Regions from separate parts of the Homo sapiens genome. Here region 2 is linked to region 1. Evidence: fine-mapped expression QTL. A gene starts in region 1. The other region holds a variant in brackets. All regions are shown on one strand. Distances are between the middles of the regions.

Region 1 (5,520 bases):
TCTTAAAAAAAGAACTAGCGGCCGGGCGCGGTGGCTCACGCCTGTAATCCCAGCACTCTGGGAGGCCGAGGCGGGTGGATCATGAGGTCAGGAGATCGAGACCATCCTGGTTAACACGGTGAAACCCCGTCTCTACAAAAAAAAAAAAAAAAAAAAAAAAATTAGCCAGGCGTGGTGGCGGGCACCTGTAGTCCCAGCTACTCAGGAGGCTGAGGCAGGAGAATGGCGAGAACCCGGGAGGCGGAGCTTGCAGTGAGCCAAGATTGCACCACTGCACTCCACGCTGGGCGACAGAGGAGACTCCGTCTCCAAAAAAGTAAATAAATAAAAGAAAAGAAAACAACTAGCAACATTTTTTTTTTCTGAGACTGAATCTCACTCTGTTGCCCAGGCTGGAGTGCAGTGGTGCAATCTTGGCTCACTGCAACCTCCGTCTCCCTTGGCCTCCCAAAGTGCCGAGATTACAGGCATGAGCCACCGCGCCCGGCCAGCAGTCTTTTTTTTCTGTTTCTTTCTTTTTTTTTTTTTTTTTTTTTTGAGACGGAGTCTCGCTTTGTTGCCCAGGCTGGAGTGCAGTGGCGTGATCTCGGCTCACCGCAAGCTCCGCCTCCCGGGTTCACGCCATTCTTCTGCCTCAGCTTCTTGAGCAGCTGTATTTTTTGTATTTTTAGTAGAGACGGGGTTTCACCATGTTGGCCAGGCTGGTCTTGAACTCTTGTCCTCTGGTGATCTGCCCACCTTGGCCTCCCAAAGTGCTGGGATAACACGTGTGAGCCACTGTGCCTGGCCAGAAATAGCAATTTTTAAGCATTTACTGTATACCTGGCATTATTCTAAGCGCTTTATGTGCCATTAAATCATTAAGTCCTTAACACAATCTTATGAAATAGGACCTCTTCCTACTCCCATTTTATAGATTGGTTAACTGAGAGCCAGAGAGGTCACATAATTGCTCAGTATTAGTGTCTGGTAAGTTGACATTTGTCCCCAGGATATTTGCATGGCTGGAGTCCCTCCTATCACTCAGTTCTGTGCTTGGTTGTTCCCTCTTTGCAGAGTACTCCTCTGGTGGAACAGACCATCTCATCTAAATTTTTAAAGTCTAAAATGGCCAGGTGTGGTGGCTCATGCCTGTAATCCCAGCACTTTGGGAGGCCAAGGTGGGCGGATCACCTGAGGTCGGGAGTTCAAGACCAGCCTGACCAACATGGAGAAACTCCGTCTCTACTAAAAATACAAAATTAGCTGGGAGTGGTGGCACACGCCTGTAGTGCCAGCTACTCGGGAGGCTGAGGCGGGACAATCGGTTGAACCCAGGAGGTGGAGGTTGCAGTGAGCCAAGATTACGCCACTGCACTCCAGCCTGGGCAACGAGTGAGATTCAGTCTCAAAAAAAAAAAAAATTGCTAGTTCTTTTTTTAAGAGACAGTCGTTTGAACCCAGGAGGTTGCGGTGAGCCGAGATTGCGCCATTGCACTCCAGCCTGGGCAGCAAGAGCAAAACTCCGTCTCAAAAAAACGAAAACAAAAAATAAACAAAAATTAGCCAAGCATGGTGCCATGTGCCTGTGGTCTCAGCTACTCAGGAGGCTGAGGTGAGAGGATCGCTTATGCCAGAGAGGCTGGGGCTGCAGTGAGTTTTGATCACACCACTGGCCTCTAGCCTGGGCAACAGAGCGAGGCCCTGTCTCAAAAATAAATACATAAGCCAGGCCTGGTGGCTCATGCCTGTAATCCCAGTACTTTGGGAGGCCGAGGTGGGCGAATCACGAGGTCAGGAGTTCGAGACCAGCCTGGCCAACGTGGTGAAACCCTGCCTCTACTAAAAATACCAAAAATTGCTGGGCATGGTGGCGGGTGCCTGTAATCCCAGCCACTCAGGAGGCTGAGGCAGGAGAATCGTTTGAACCCGGGAGGCGGAGCTTGCAGCGAGCCGAGATGGTGCCACTTCACTCCAGCCTGGGAAGCAGGGCGAGACTGTGTCTCAAAAAATAGATAAATAAATAAATAAGATACAAATAAATAAATACAGAAATAAATTAAATTAAATTACACTTTGTTCAGCCAAGTGTTGGCCACGTGTTCTGCTTGACTGCTTAATACCTGGGAATATCCCCACAAACACATTTTGCAATGGACATATAATTTCCCCGACAACTCAGCAGACTCTCTGACATTTGTTCAGATTTCAGATCTGACCTGGTGGAACTGGGGACTAGTTATTCCTTCTCTGGAAGGTCTCCCTTGCTCTTCTACCTCCACTATCTTTCTTTTTTTGAGAGGGAATCTCGCTCCGTCACCCAGGCTGGCGTGCTGTGGTGCGATCTCAGCTTACTGGAACCTCCCCTTCACGAGTTCAAGTGATTCTCTTGCTTCAGCCTCCCAAGTAGCTGAGATTACAGGCACGTGCCAGCACGCCCAGCTAATTTTTTGGTATTTTTTGGTAGAGATGGGGTTTCGCTATATTGGCCAGGCTGGTCTCAAACTCCTGACCTCAAGTGATCCACCTGCCTCGGCCTCTCAAAGTGCTGGAATTACAGGTATGAACCACTGTGCCTGGCCCACCTCCACTGTCTCTCCCCATGAATGCAGGACTGCCTACTTTGTCTCCTGGGGTTTTGCTGTCAGAGTGAAACTTATCTGTAAAAGAATAAGACTTCTCAGAGGCCTCTCAAAGGCAGTTGTTGGATTGAGCATTTTCCAAGGAGACTACTTTGAACCTTCATTTTGAATATCGGGGTTCCGATCAGCTCCTTATGTCTTGTTATTTTTGCGTTTTGTGTATCTGATGGTCATTGTTCTTCATGGCCTCCCTCCTAGGGAGAAATCAGGCCACTCCCTATTTCTGATAGCCCTAGAGTTTTGTTGATTGACTCTCGGATGTGTTTATTTTCCAGACCCAGGTTCCTGTCATGGCTAGGGGTGGCTGTTGGCCTCGTCCTTACCCTCCACTGGGAATGTCTTTGTCTTATGCACGTAGTCTGCCTTGTTGTTGCAAATAACATTTCTGCTATAATCACAGGATGCCCCGGCTTCTTCACTCCATTCGACGTAACCCCTTCCCACGAGCTCCACCTTCACTATGGGGTCCACCAGGGTGCTGTTCAGGGTTAAGATCACCTGCCCTTTTATGCTGGAGCCAGCCAGGTAGATTCTATCCTCGGGCAGCACTAATTCGATCGACTTCACCACAGACATGGGGGGTTGGGGGGTAGAGAGACATTCCTCTCTGTCCCCCATGTCCCTGAAATTCCCGGTTCGTTGGCCCTAGTGAGGTAATCCATCTATGACATCACTCAGCTCAGAGTTCCGGGAAGTGGGGACCCCAGTGGCCAGGAGGGGAGGCAAAACTGTTGTTTAGGGTGGGTGGTTGATTGGGAAACCTGTAGTCCTCACTGGTTCTTTTTTTTTTTTTTTGAGATGGAGTCTTACCCTGTAGCCCAGGCTGGAGTGCAGGGGTGCCATCTTGGCTCACTGCAACCTCCGCCTCATGGGTTCAAGCAATTCTCCTGCCTCAGCCTCCTGAGTAGCTGGGACCACGGGTGCATGCCAGCATGCCCAGCTAATTTTTTGGTAGAGACAGAGTTTCACTGTGTTGGCCAGGATGGTCTCGATCTCCTGACCTCGTGATCCACCCACCTCAGCCTCCCAAAGTGCTGGGATTGCAGGCGTGAGCCACTGCACCTGGGCTTTTTCTTTTTTTGAGACAAAGTCTCATTCTGTCACCCAGGCTGGAGTGTAGTGGCGCGATCTCGGCTCACTGCCACATCTGCCTCCCGGGTTCAAGCAATTCTCCTGCTTCAGCCTCCTGAGTAGCTGGAATTACAGGCATGCACCATCACCATGCTTTGCTAATTTTTTTTTGGTATTTTTATTTATTTTATTTTTATTTTTTGTGATGGTCTCACTCTGTCAGCCAGACTGGAGTGCAATGGTGTGATCTCGGCTCACTGCAACCTCTGCCTCCTGGGTTCCAGCGATTCTCCCACCTCAGCCCCCCAAGTACCTGAGATTACAGGCAAGTGCCACTGCAACTAGCTAATTTTTGTATTTTTAGTAGAGACGGGGTTTCACCATGTTGGCCAGGCTGGTCTCGAACTTGTGGCCTCACATGATTCGCCTGCCTTGGCCTCCCAAAGTGCTGGGATTACAGTTGTGAGCCACTGTGCCCAGGTGCATACACACTCATTTTCATCTTAAAGACTCTACATTTATATTGGTCTATATTGGAAAAAACATAGAGATATGGCCAGGACCTGAAATCTGGTGCGCACTGAAGTTGATCAGGGCAGTGTGTGCTTAATCTGAACATCGACACCATCAGGAAGCAGCAACTCCCTGCATGATTGACATTTCTCTTTTTTTTTGAGGTGGAATCTCACTCTGTTGCCCAGGCTGGAGTGCAGTGGCGTGATCTCGGCTCACTGCAACCTCTGCCCCCTGGGTTCAAGCGATTCTCCTGCCTCAGCCTCCCAAGTAGCTGGGATTACGGGCATGGGGGTTACAGGCACCTGCCCCCGTGCCCGGCTAATTTTTGTTCTTTTTGTTTTTGTTTTTGTTTTTTTTTTGAGATTGGAGTCTCACTTTGTCACCCAGGCTGGAGTGCAGTGGTGCGATCTCGGCTCACTGCAAGCTCCGCCTCCCGTGTTCATGCCATTCTCCTGCCTCAGCTTCCCGAGTAGCTGGGACTACAGGCGTCCGCCACAAATGCCTGGCTAATTTTTTGTATTTTTAGTAGAGACGGGGTTTCATCATGTTAGCCAGGATGGTCTCAATCTCCTGACCTCGTGATCCGCCCACCTTGGCCTCCCAAAGTGCTGGGATTACAGGCGTGAGCCACCGCACCCAGCCAATTTTTGTTATTTTTAGTAGAGACAGGGTTTCACCATCTTGGCCAGGCTGATCTTGAACTCCTGACCTCATGATCCACCCGCCTCACTTGGCCTCCCAAAGTGCTGGGATTACAGGCATGAGCTACCACGCCTGGCTGACATTTCTCTTTATGCCTGCATCTCCCCCATTGGATGGGAAGTCCCTCCAGGGTGAGACCTTGTCTAAGTGAACTTTGTGCCCATCAATGTCTGCGTGACCCAGGCAGGATCTGGCTCAGCCAGGAGTGGGTGTGGGGGGTGGAATCAATAAAAGTTTGTTGAATGACTTAATGACCTCTGAGAATGTATCATTTTGCAAAAGGGAAACTGAAGCCCTTTGCACTCTAACAATTATTCCTGGCACCTGATTTGCACATGGTCTGGTGCCTGAGAGGGAGGGACATTGAATCATAGGAGGGGCTAGGAAGTACCCATTCTCTAGCCTGGCAGGCCTTATTTCTTGTCTTGGCTGTATCTTGCATTATTTTATGTGATAGCTTTTGTGGGCATTGGCCTCTTATTTCCCTAAGTCAAGCTCATCCAACCCCTGACCCACGGGCCACATTTGGCCCAGGATGGAATATGGCTCAACACAAATTCGTAAACTTTCTTTTTTTTTTTTTTTTTTTTTTTTTTGAGACAGAGTCTTG
Region 2 (5,000 bases), 27 kb after region 1:
GCTTGAGCCCCGGAGTTCAAAACCAGCTTGGGCAAAGCAGCAAGACCTCATCTCTAAAAAAAATTAGCTGGGCATGGGTGATGTGTGCCTGTGGTCCCAGCCACTCAGGAGCCTGAGGCAGGAGGATTACTTGAGCCCAAGGTTCGATGCTGCAGTGAGCTACGATTGCACCACTGCCCTCCATCCTTGGCAACAGAGTGAGATCCTTTCTAAAGGAAAAAAAAAAAAAAGTCCGGGTGCAGTGGCTCACGCCTGTAATCCCGGCACTTTGGAAGGTTGAGGTGGGCGGATCACGAGGTCAGGAGATCGAGACCATTCTGGCTAACATGGTGAAACCCCACCTCTACTAAAAATACAAAAATTAGCCGGGCTTGGTGGCGGGTGCCTGTAATCCCCGCTACTTGGGAGGCTGAGGCAGGAGAATGGCGAACCTGGGAGGCGGAGCTTGCAGTGAGCCAAGATCGTGCCACTGCACTCCAGCCTGGGCGACAGAGCAAGATTCCGCCTCAAAACAAAAAACAAAACAAAACAAAACAAAAAAAAACAGGCCGGGTACTGTGGTTCATGCTGTAATCCCAGCTCTTTGGGAGGCCGAGGTGGGTGGATCCCTTCAGCGTAGGAGTTCAAAACCAGCCTGGCCAACATGGCGAGACCCTGTCTCTACTAAAAATACAAAAATTAGCTGGGTGTGATGGCTCATGCCTATAGTCCCAAGCTACTCAGGAGGCTGAGGCACAAGAATCGCTTGAACCTGGGAGGTGGAGATTGCAGTGAGCTGAGATCACACCCCTACACTCCACCCTGGGCGACAGAGTGAGACTCCATCTCAAAAAAAAAAAAAAAAAAAAAAATTTTTTTCTGGAAAAGATGAGTCAGCCTTTATCAGGTTCTTAGGTTTATGGTGAACAAAGAAAGAAAGCCTGCAGAGAAGGGCCTTGGCCTTCACTGTGACCCCCATGCTGTTTGCATTTGAACAGCCGTCAGGCCTTGGATCCCCAAGGGGCGAAAGGAGGAAGAGCTGACATTCTATGTATGTCTCTCTCCTCCCTTTTCCTAAGGTCTCTCTCCTCCCTTTTCCTAAGGATGCTCCTGAACCAGGGCATTTCTGCCTCTAGGGGACACATGGTGATGTCTGGGGGACATCGGTTGTTGTCATGACTGGTGGAGGCCAGGGCCGCTGCAGTGCCTCTGCAGTGCCCAGCACGGCCCCACGGTCCAGTGCCCAGAGGGGGAGACCCAGCCCATCCCAGAGTGGTCAGCCCTAATGTCAGCCATGCTTAGGTCGAGAAACCTGTATTAATTACATGGAAACCAACCGAGTCCAATCCTGCTCGCACCAGGCACGGGATAAACTCCTGACGGGGCAGACGTGGAAACCAGGGGGACCCCCAGCTCCTGGGATTCACCTCCTCTCTCCCTTCCCACTCAGTGTGTGGATTTTAATGCGTGCAGCCTCCTGGGACCTCAGTAGGGCACAGCATCATGGGATAAGGAGTTTCTTGGGGGCCTGTGGAATCCTTCACCAGGGGGTCTCACCCAGGGTGACTTCACACCCCCCCACCCCATACCGTATGATGTCTGGGGACATTTGTGGTCGTCACAACTACGGGGTGCTCCTGGCATGGAGTAGGTGGAGGCCAGGGACGCTGCTCAGCACCCTGCAGTGCCCAGGATGGCTCCGCCCCAGAGAATGGTCCAGGACCTGGCCCCAATGTCTGCAGTGCCGGGGGAGAGGAACTTGTTGCCTTGGGGGCATCTAGATGGCAAATCATCAGGAGGGGGGGGTCCTAGATGGCAAACCACCGGGAGAGGGTCCTTGTTGGGTGTTGGTGGAGTGTGAAGGGGCAGCTTCTGACAAAATGCCTCGGCTTCTCCAGCCCCCAGATACAGCTCAGGTGATGAGCTCCTCCTTGCATACCTGCTGAGTCAGGTGACCCGAGGGGCAGGCTGTGGAGCCAGGCCCCAGGGGTTGAGCGCATCAGGATAAAAGCGCACAAAGGGCGGGTGGAGCTGAGGGTCAGAGGAGGTGCCCTGGCAGGCGAGATTGGCGCTGGAGCCTTACCCAGGAAGCTCATAGGAAGCTCATGGATGCTGGCATGTGCCTCTTGCTGTTCAGGTGGGACAGGGTCTCTCT[G/C]TCTCGACACTGGACAGTGGGACCGTCCTGGGCACTGCAGGGTGCCGAGCAGCGTTCCTGGCCTCCACCCACTCCATGCTAGGAGCTTCTCCCAGTGGCGACAACCACAAATGTCCCAGACGTGGCCCAGCGTCCCCCGGGGTCTGAATCATGTTTGGTTGAGAAGCAGTGACAGAGGTGACACATGTTCACTGTCACAAAAGCTGCCGTAAGCACGAAGTATTAGGAAAAACTCCCAAGACCCCCATGTGTGCGTGGTGCCCCGTGATGATGTTTTGTGCTTCTGGGTGCTTCCTGCATGCAGTGCCAAAAGCCCTCGCTAGAGGGGCCTGAGACCCTGAGGGAAGGGACTGGGGTGCCGCTTGTGAGCGGGACAGCCCCCTGGCATGGCCCAGGTATCATGGCTCTTTACTCTGATGCAGATTGCCCCCCCCCCACAAGGGCTGGGACACAGTGTTTGGTTCATCACTGGTGCCCACAGATGCCCACTTGGCATTTGGTGGCTAAACAGCGTCTGCCTCTGGTGTCCCTGCAGATGGAGGACGGCCATACCCTCTTCGACTACGAGGTCCGCCTGAATGACACCATCCAGCTCCTGGTCCGCCAGAGCCTCGTGCTCCCCCACAGCACCAAGGAGCGGGACTCCGAGCTCTCCGACACCGACTCCGGCTGCTGCCTGGGCCAGAGTGAGTCAGACAAGTCCTCCACCCACGGTGAGGCGGCCGCCGAGACTGACAGCAGGCCAGCCGATGAGGACATGTGGGATGAGACGGAATTGGGGCTGTACAAGGTGAGCCTCCCCTCCGCAGCTGCTCTGGGGTTGGACGTTCTCCCTGCCATTCTGGTCTTTGCATACCCAGGGCTCACAGGAGGGGCTTCCCACGCGCCTCTCTAGCTCTGGCTGGGCAGAAATGGCCAAGGGGTGGTTTCCTGCACGTTCCTTGAGGGGAACATGGTACCCTGGGATTCCTTTGTGGACCTCTAGAGCAGAGTCCTGTTCGGGGCCTGCAGGTGTCTTCTCCGTGAAGCTTGCAGTGGCTGTGACGTTTCTGAACTTGCTGCTACCATGTAAGATCAGGAAATGTCACAGAAAGATCTGGGTTTCCAGCTTTTTTATTTTTTTATTTTTTTTTTGGCAGGGTCTCACTTTGTTGCCCAGCCTGGGGTGCAGCCGTGTGATCACAGCTCACTGTAGCCTCGAACTCCTGGGCTCAAGTGATCCTCCCACCTCAGCCTCCTGAGTAGCTGATGTTATAGGCATGTGCCACCACGCCCAGCTAATTTTATTTTATTTTATTACTTTTTTAATACATGGTCTCATTCTGTCGCCCAGGCTGGAGTACAGTGGTGCCATCTCGGCTCATTGCAACCTCCAACTCCTGGGTTCAAGCAATTCTCGTGCCTCAGCCTCCTGAGTAGCTGGGATTACAGGCATGTGCCACCACACCTGGCTAATTTTTGTATTTTTTGTAGAGACGGGATTTCGCCATGTTGGCCAGGCTAGTCTTGAACTCCTGGCCTCAAGTGATCTTCCCGCCGCAGCCTCCCAAAGTGCTGGAATTATAGGTGTGAGCCACTGCACCCAGTCTGTTTTATTTTTTAGTAGACACAGCGTCTTACCATGTTGCCCAGGCTAGTCTTGAATTCCGGGGCTCAAGCGATCCACCTGCCTCGGCCTCCCAAAGTGCTGGTATTCCAGGCGTGAGCCACGACGCCCTGCCTGGATTTCCAGCTTCTCTTGACAAATGGGCAGCTCTGGTCTCTCAGGGCCTCCCAGCAGCTGTGGCTGAAGCAGAGCCGCAGGGGCCTTTGTTAAGACAGTCCATGCCCCCTGGCCCCGCATCCCCGTCACCCCTGCCGGGGCTGGTTTCTCATGGTCAGCGGTTCCCAGCCAGGGAGGAGAAACCTCGCTGTGGGCATTCGAGTTTGCGCCCTGGTTCCAGAGCATCCCAGTGTCCGAGAACCAAGGTGGTCTCCCGTCAGTTTTCCTCACCCCGTTGGGATGCCAGACTTCCCTCATTCCTCACAGGTCAATGAGTACGTCGATGCTCGGGACACGAACATGGGGGCGTGGTTTGAGGCGCAGGTGGTCAGGGTGACGCGGAAGGCCCCCTCCCGGGACGAGCCCTGCAGCTCCACGTCCAGGCCGGCGCTGGAGGAGGACGTCATTTACCACGTGAAATACGACGAGTGAGTCATGGCAGGTGGGCGGGCCTGGGTATTCAGGCTCTGTGACGCGCATCCTTGGCTGCGGGTGTTCAGGCCAGAGCTTGGCACTGTCTCGAGATGGTGATCAGGATCTGGGGCCCCATCCTCGAATTCCTAACAGCATACGAGGCTGCCCACTTGGGGACTAGCCTGGGGACCCGAAGCCGGCTGCCCCCTCCTGTGTCTCCGCGGAGGGTTCTGCTCGATCAGTGGCTGAAACTGCCACCCCATCAGTTTTTCTGTTTTATTCCATCTTCCGGGTTTGTCATCTCTCCCTCATCCCCACCCCTAACGTCAGTCTCCAGTCTTTGCACAAGTGTTTACTGGGCACTTCCTACCTGCCAAGTTCGGGGTCCACACACCAGTGGACACAGATGGTGGCTGCGTCTGTCCGTGCTGCCATCGTGAGATTTCACAGACGGTGTGGCTTAAACACGGACATTGGTTGACTTGCTCACTGCAACCTCTGCCTCCTGGATTCAAGCGATTCTCCTGCCTCAGCCTCCTGAGTAGCTGGGACTACAGGTGCCCGCCACCACACCCAGCTAATGTTTGTATTTTTATTTTATTTTATTTTTATTTTATTTTTTCGAGACAGAGTCTTACTCTGTCACTCAGGCTAGAGTGCAATGGCGTGGTCTCAGCTCACTGCAACCTC

Direction of the effects. Alleles are on the strand shown, and positions count from the first base shown. SD is a standard deviation of normalised expression in the study named.
In carriers of allele G in region 2, the expression in CD8 T cells of the gene that starts at base 3,268 in region 1 tends to be lower than with C alone (small effect, 0.35 SD a copy in CEDAR).

Evidence for each region. PIP is the estimated chance that this variant, and not a neighbour inherited with it, causes the effect.
Region 2: its variant is the best candidate, but not a certain one, in a credible set for the expression of ARRDC5 in CD8 T cells (CEDAR, PIP 0.71).

What each region holds. Positions count from the first base shown.
Region 1 is chr19:4,899,629-4,905,148 of GRCh38, forward strand. It overlaps ARRDC5 (arrestin domain containing 5), which reads right to left and starts at 3,268. Exons shown (of 3, transcript NM_001080523.3): 1 at 2,945-3,268. The coding sequence starts at 3,197. It also overlaps a transcript of UHRF1 not described here.
Region 2 is chr19:4,926,553-4,931,552 of GRCh38, forward strand. It overlaps UHRF1 (ubiquitin like with PHD and ring finger domains 1), which reads left to right. Exons shown (of 17, transcript NM_001048201.3): 3 at 2,670-2,924; 4 at 4,164-4,324. Among named protein-coding and RNA genes, the nearest start is that of MIR4747, 3.6 kb to the right of the region's middle. RefSeq lists an enhancer at 4,029-4,528. The variant G/C (reference allele first, on the strand shown) is at 2,135.